Linked DNA regions of Homo sapiens: region 1 is linked to region 2. The links come from fine-mapping of genetic effects on plasma protein levels. Region 2 holds a variant in brackets. A gene starts in the other region. All regions are shown on their reverse strands.

Region 1 (2,191 bases), not on the chromosome of region 2:
ATCAGGAGTTCAAGACCAGCCTGGCTAACATGGCGAAACCGTCTCTGCTAAAAATACAAAAATTAGCTGAGGCCGGGCGCGGTGGCTCACGCCTGTAATCCCAGCACTTTGGGAGGCCAAGGCGGGCGGATCACGAGATCAGGAGATCGAGACAATCCTGGCTGACACCGTGAAACCCCATCTCTACTAAAAATACAAAAAATTAGCTGTAGTCCCAGCTACTCGGGAGGCTGAGGCAGGAGAATGGCGTGAACCCGGGAGGCGGAGCTTGCAGTGAGCCTAGATCGCGCCACTGCACTCCAGCCTGGGCGACAGAGTGAGACTCCATCTCAAAAAAAAAAAAAAAAAATTAGCTGGGCGTGATGGCACAGGCCTGTAATCCCAGCTACTTGGGAGGCTGAGGCACAAGAATCACTTAAACCCGGGAGGCAGAGGTTGCAGTGAGCTGAGATTGCACCACTGCACTCCAGCCCGGGCCACAGAGCGAGACTCCATCTCAAAACAAAACAAAACAAAAAAAAGGACCTCACAGGGAGTCTCTCTACCTCTCAAAGGGCTGAGGTGTCCTCTCTGAGCTCAGGGACAGGAGGCAGTGCAGAGAGAGACTCCTGCTTCTCCTAGCTTCCAGCTCTGGTTCCACGTTGGAAGAAGGGGGCTTGGGAAGAAGTCTGGGAAAGGGAACCCGAGAGAAAGGAGAGGATATGGCACAGAACTGGGGGGCAAAGGCCAAAGGGTTGGGGTCTTCGGAGGCGAGCCTATCCAATGGGCCTTGTGTTACCCTTGGCCGTGTGCAGGTCCACCTCCACCGTGGGGTTGCCCCTGGAGTCCAAGATTTCCCGGGCAAAGATTTTCTGCATGGCCATGGCTGCAGGACAGGAGGTGTGAGTGAGTGTAGACAGTTGATCTCTTAAGGAACCAGAAATCCCTTGCCCTTTAAGATTCTTCCCCACTCCAAGAAGGCAGGTGCTGGAGCTAAAAATACCCTACAAAAAGGTCACAGACCAAAGAGGCAGGCGCAGCCCCCTCCCCCACTCAGAACAGCTCTTATTCCACCCTCCCATCCTAAGAATCCAGGGGCCTCTTATCTATAGCTCCTGGGATGCCACCGCTCACCAAGCCCCCACCTCCCCCAAGCCTCCACTTAGGCCTTCTCCTTCCACCCCTCTGGTCAAGCAGTCTGTTCTCCATGGCTGGTGGCCTTCAAATCCTTTCTGGTTCTCATTTTCCTGCTCCGAAATCTCCTTGGGCCCCCAATTCCCTATCAGGTTCCAGCTCTAGCTGCCCTTTTCTATCCATCCCTGCTGCCCTCCTCACAGCCTCCTTTCCCTAGATCCTTCGGTGTTCCCAGAGTTTGTCCCATCTGCTTGCTCCAGCCGCCCCTTCCCCCAGCTTTTTCAAGCATCTCCAGTCCCAGGAGGAAAAAAAGCAGAAATGTCCCCCACTTCCTCCAAGCCAATACCATGCTCACCCTTTACTACCTCCACCCCCAGGGCTGGAAGATTCACCCGACCTGGGATGTCTTCGCTGGAGGTTTGGATGGAGCTCCGAGTCTAGGTGGCAGCTGGGACAGTGTCAGCTCACCCCCTCTCAGGCTGCGCATTTATCCCTGAGCCACTCGGTCCCCAGCCAGCCCCGCCTCTCTTTCTCTCCATCCTCCCCCCTTCACACTGGGCTGGCAGCCAAGTGCCCACTACAGCCTGAAGCAGAAGCCTCTGGCCCTGGGCACCTGCCCCCTTACCAAAGGTCAACTACTATCCCCCACTTTCTGTCTCCCAATAACAGTCCCTGTTCTAATTCCACCCTTTGGGAGGAGCAAGGGAGGGGCTACAGATGAGGGGTCTCCCCCCACCCCAGGATTACATTCCCCTTTTGCAAACGTCAAGAGGAATGAGTGACCTTTAGGAAAGGCCAGGGGTAACCTGAGCCCTGCAAGGCTGGGGAGGGGGCCTGGAAGAGGGGCTGCAAGATTGACGTCCACACATGCTCAGATCGCTGGGCGGGCCTCTGTCCTCAGTGGGGGAAAGGACGGGACCCCCCACCCCAGAAGGCGAGAGGGTCTCACCTCTTAGGGTCCTCATAACGGCCATTCTCGGCGCCGCCCCATCCTACCCTCTCCAGGCCAGCCAGCGCCGGGATGAGTTAGGGGACAGGAAACGAATTTAGACAGGCCCTTTCGGCTGGCAAGGCGCCC
Region 2 (5,534 bases):
ACTATTCTGGCTTAGGCACCAAATTATAATGTGTCAGTGTTTTTGTGGTTTGTTGAGAATAATCAACGATTAATGAACATAGGGAGAAGCAAGGTAAAAATGGCTGAGTGAGCATTAGTCTATAAATCTAAAGACAGAGATTAAACCTCTTTTCACCAAGTCCTGAGGTGAAATTTCACACTGAATTTGCAAAGTTAAAGGAGCAGCTTCAATTCTGCAGCGGTAGGGGGGCACTTCTGCATTTTTTTTTCCAGGGAGGGAAAAGTAGAGTAAAGCCAGTTGGTTAAGATATTTAGCCGCTAACTAATGTATTGGATGAATATTATTATATTATTAAAATTAATAAATTATCAATTATTAAAATCCTTCTTTGAGTCTAAAAAACATAGGCCATCAATATTACTGAAGTTATGAATACAAAAACTATGAAGACCTAAACTGCAACCCTTATATAATTTCCACAGCTGACCAAAAGCCAGAGAAGCATAACTAATCAAGGTCAATGACCATAGAAAAGTCAATTTGTGTGTTAATCTCATTTGAAGATATATTATACTCATGAGCCATACCTTCATTAAGCTTAAAAACTGACACAATTTTCATACGTTTAAATCAAGAAACTTCAATATATATACCCAGCCAGGTTTATACTATGGGCAATGCTCAGAAATTTGTGAATCAAATTTCAAGTACAATGTACTTGAATTAGTACCATCAAAACGTTTTGAAAATTGATCAATATCTATATTATAATATCCTTGTGAAGCTAAATAACAACCTTTTAAGTTAAAGACTGAGAGTAAAAAAAAGTTGTCTCTGGCTTATTTATTATGTAAATCTTTATAATGATTGTAAGTTTCAAAGGCCCAGACTGTTTCAACTACAGATGCAGGTGAAGCTAACGTAGAGAAATGAGAACACTTACTATATATGGCTTGTTTTATTTTCTTGGGAGATAGAGAAAAGTTATAGGGAATTATTCCTTATATAACTCTAACTATATTTCCTATGTAACTTTAATGCTAGGATTAAGTATCAAACTTAATAGGCCCCTCTCTGCAATAGGTTCGTTTCAGGAATCACTGGCCCTAGGAATCAACAAAGCTCAGAGTTGGAGGAAAAACCAAGCTTTCAGTATTTGAGGCAGCTCCTTGTGGAAGGCAGTCATTAAAAACTAAAAAAGAAAAAAAAATTTAGAAGATATATTCTTTTAGTAGTCAAGACAAAATGCTACTAGGAAAGTAAAAAGAAAATTAGAGGAGGACATTTTCATCTGCCATTACTCCTTGTATACTTATTTACCCTGGGGAAGTCATGGAGAAAAAAGTTTCTAGATTTAGATATCTGTTGTATCTGTTGGCTAAAAAACATATGGATGCTATAAAAATATAGCACCTGTTCTTCCTCAGCATCTACTCATATTTACCATGTGATAGTCTGAGTTTTGAAATCACGGTTTAAATTATATATCTGTGTCAATTTGGATTTTTTTGAGGCAAGGTAGTATATATACCTGAACAATTTTATATTGTGTGGCAGAAATTCCTACATGTAAAATAGATCACTGTGGCCAACAGAAAACAGAGTTCTATTTAAATACTTGGAATAACTTAATTTTATATATCCTTTTATCTACAGATCCTGGCCTTCACAGTTCAAGGTTATACATAAATGGGTCTGGTTAAGATAGGCATGTCTGCACAAAGTCTTTTTGGTAAGAGAATGATACAAGCATACACAAAAGAGTTAATTCATATATTTTATCAACCGAATTCTTCTTCTTTTTTTTTTTTTTTGAGATGGAGTCTTGCTCTTGTCACCTAGGCTGGAGTGCAGTGTCACGATCTCGGCTCACTGCAACTTTTGCCTCCTGGATTCAAGCGATTCTCCTGCCTTAGCCTCTCGAATAGCTGGGGTTACAGGTGCCCACCACCACACCCGGCTAATTTTTGTATTTTTAGTAGAGACGGGGTTTCACCATGTTGGCCAGGCTGGTCTCGAACTCCTGGCCTCGTGATCCACCTGCCTTGGCCTGTCAAAGTGCTGGGATTACAGGCGTGAGCCACCGCACCCGGCCTCAACCGAGTTCTAACAAAAATATTGATTATTACAGAATGAAACCTTAACGCCTAATTTCAATTTTTGTGTTGTCCCACAGTGACACCTATTGATGGATACTGCATGAGTCTCCTTTTTCTTCCCTTTATTGCCTTGCTTAATAAATACTGCAATAAGCATCCTTGTGGATATATGCTTACATATTAGCATATCTCTTAAAGTGTACTTGGAAATAGAACTTTTGGGCAAAAGGTATGCATAATTAAATTTTGATAAGAGCTGCCAATTTATACTTCAATCTACACTCAAACTAATAATTTATAAAATTATTGGAAATATGGAATCATTTTGATTATTGTACTTTATAGTGTTTTCTCTATTTTGACTTCATAAATCTAATATACCAAATCCCTTAAATTACAGTTTTATCATATCTTTCTGAATTTTGGTACAGAACAAATTGTACCAAATGTGGAGTAGGCAACCTGTGTTCAATTTCCTAATACACTATTTATTTCCTTTGGGTTATCAGTAATTCATTTAGATCAGTGATTTTTGTACTTTTTTGACTGAGACAGCCCAAAGTAAGAAATAGCATGGCCCAGTGCATACACACAAATGCACACATACATGTGTATGGCACACACATACACTTTCATAAAGTACAAATAAAAGTTTTATAAAACTGTAGTTACCAGGATTATATGTGACGTACTCTATTTTCTTTTGTAATGCTTTGTAGTTATTTTTTATTAATGGTCACCAACAGCTAAAAGGCTTTCACTAGCTGCTAATGACTCAATACGTCATCACTCCACAGTTTGAACCATGCTGAAAACTTCTTTGAGTCTTGATCAATAAATTAATAAATAAAATAAGGTTAATAGTAATTATATAATTATGTAATATATTATATAAAAATCATGTCAAAATTTATGTTCCTGCTTTAAAATTCCATGATTCCAAGAATAGCTCTCATTCTGTTTCTTAAAATGTCTTTCATGAATTTCTAAACAGAAAAGAAAATGACATGAGCCTGAGAACAACTTTCTCTGATCCAAAACTTTCCCAAATAATTTACTACATCTTGCAAAGAGACATAAAGATGGTGATGAGACTTGAAGAAGAATGTCACTCAAAGATACAAGGAAATCCTCAGCTTTTTAATTCATTAACAACAATTTGGAATCAGAATCTATCCTGTTTTTAGTATGATTCCATAACAAATTGCATTGAAGCTAATGTATCTTCTCAGAAAAGAAAATTGTTTTCAGGAAATAAATGGCCTTACAAGCCAAGCAACTGTGGAATCTGGGGCTCATGGGAAGTAAGTGAACTGTTAGGAATGGCATGACTTGAGAAGTAACAGTGGTCTTCTTTCCA[C/T]GTCATTTAAAACTTTTTTCACGTAGCTGCCAGAGTTCGTGGAATTTCAGTTTGAAGTGTGCCTATTAAGGTTTTGAATAATTCTATTAAATGGGACACCTATTACCCATGAAAGGAGGTACAGTAAGCCTTCTGCAGTCATGGTCATATTATACTAAAACAATTGGTCTGTTAGACACCATACAAGGCCTTGAGTAATAAGTCTTGATGGACACAAAGGGATTTTTGCTCTCAAGGTGATTACAGTATAGGAGCTAAATTTAAATTTTGAGCCAGATGATCTCTATTATGCTGTTGTAGACCATGGCCAGAATTGCCATGCTCAGTTGCCTTCAGAGCTTGTAATATCAGAGATATTACAGCCTGTGCAGACTAACAGTCTGGTTATCACTCCATAGTTGGAATGTAAGAGTGCACATTTGATGCTTGATCACTTTTGCCTGGAGATAATATGACAATTGGCCCTAATGGCATGATAAGATAAGGTATCCAGTCTGGGGACAGTGGCTTATGCCTGTAATCCCAGCACTTTGGGAGGCCGAGGCAGACAGACCAGCCTGAACAACATGTTGAAACCCTGACTCTACTAAAAATACAAAAATTAGCCGGGCATGGTGGCATGCATCTGTAATCCCAGCTACTCAGGAGGCTGAGGCACGAGAATCACTTGAACCCAGGAAGTGGAGGTTGCAGTGAGCTGAGGTGGGCAACAGAGGAAGACTCTGTCTCAAAAAAAAGAAGAAGATACTGTATCCAAAACCCAGATGACAGATTAGAACTCTGGGGCTAGTTACATGTACAGTCAATTCTCATTATTCATGGATACTGCATTTGCAAATATGCGTGCTTGTTAAGATTGTAACTCCAAAATTAATACTCAAGGTCATTCATGAAAATGTGCAGAGCAGCAAAAAATTTGTGTCTGTCAGTGGGCACATTCCCAGCTGAGAGTGAACAAGGGGAAACTGGCTTCTTACTTATGTCTGTGTCTTTGTGTCTTTTTCGTGGTTTATTAGGGGTGATACTTTTTTTCATTTTTGTGCCTGTATTAGTCAGGGTTCTCTAGAGGGACAGAACTAATAGGATACATATATATATCTCATATATATATGAGTTTATGAGTATTATATATGAGTTTATATAATACACTCATATGAGTTTAACAAACTAATGTAATAATATATAACACAAAACGAATGAATTCATATTATCATATGAGTTTATATGTATATTAGTTTATTATATAAATATATATGAGTTTATTAAGTATTAACTTAAATGATCACAGGTCCCACAATAGGCTGTCTGCAAGCTGAGGAGCAAGGAGAGCCAGCCCAAGTCCCAAAGCTGAAAAACTTAGAGTCTGATGTTCGAGGGCAAGAAGCATCCAACACAGGAGAAAGATGTGGGCTGAGAGAGTGCCTTTATTGGTGACTTTGCTGTTTAAAATGATCCCCAAGCCCAGTACTAGAGTCCTATATAGTGTTCCTAAGTGCGAGAAGTCTGTGACATGCTTTAAAGAGAAAATATGTATTAGATAAGCTTTGTTTGGGCATGAGCAATAGTGCAGTTGGCCATGAGTTCAATGTTAATGAATCAACAACATATAGTAAATAAGATGTCTTTATTTTTATTTTAGTACGTATGTTTTTCAGCTTTATTGAGGTGTAATTGACAAAATGTTATACAGTCAAGGTGTACACTGTTGACGTTTTGAAGTACATTGTGAAACGACTGTTTCTATCAAGCTGATTAACATATCCATCATCTCACACAGTTACCTTTTTTATGATAAGAATACTTAAGGCCTCTCTTAGCAAATTTCAAGTATAGAACAAGTTGTTAACTGTAATCCCTGTGTAGCACATTAGCTCTCCAGAATGTATTCATCTTATAACTGCAAGTTTGCACACTTTGACCAATATCTCTCCATTTCCCCAAACCCCTAACTCCTAGGAAGCACGTTTCTACTTTCTATTTCTCTGAGTTCAACTTTTCTTCCCTTCCTTCTTCCCTCTTTTCTTTTTCTTTCTTTCTTTCTTTCTTTCTTTCTTTCTTTCTTTCTTTTTCTTTCTTTCTCTCTCTTCTTTTTC

Direction of the effects. Positions count from the first base shown, and alleles are read on the strand shown. Strength reflects both the effect of a copy and how common the allele is.
As copies of T replace C in region 2, the plasma level of the protein whose gene starts at base 1,574 in region 1 goes up (weak association).

The links. A credible set is the group of variants that fine-mapping cannot tell apart. PIP is the posterior inclusion probability: the model's chance that the variant is causal. Protein levels are from antibody-based Olink assays in UK Biobank. Linkage for the fine-mapping came from a reference panel and not from the study's own genotypes, which makes the PIPs less certain.
Region 1: it holds the start of ENO3, and the variant in region 2 is the best candidate, but not a certain one, in a credible set for the plasma level of the ENO3 protein (UK Biobank, PIP 0.68).

Annotation. Positions count from the first base shown.
Region 1 is chr17:4,950,502-4,952,692 of GRCh38, reverse strand. ENO3 (enolase 3) reads right to left here and starts at 1,574. Exons shown (of 12, transcript NM_053013.4): 1 at 1,511-1,574; 2 at 779-865. The coding sequence starts at 863. RefSeq lists an enhancer at 308-1,042.
Region 2 is chr12:7,615,088-7,620,621 of GRCh38, reverse strand. No RefSeq gene overlaps it. Among named protein-coding and RNA genes, the nearest start is that of APOBEC1, 48 kb to the left of the region's middle. The variant C/T (reference allele first, on the strand shown) is at 3,442.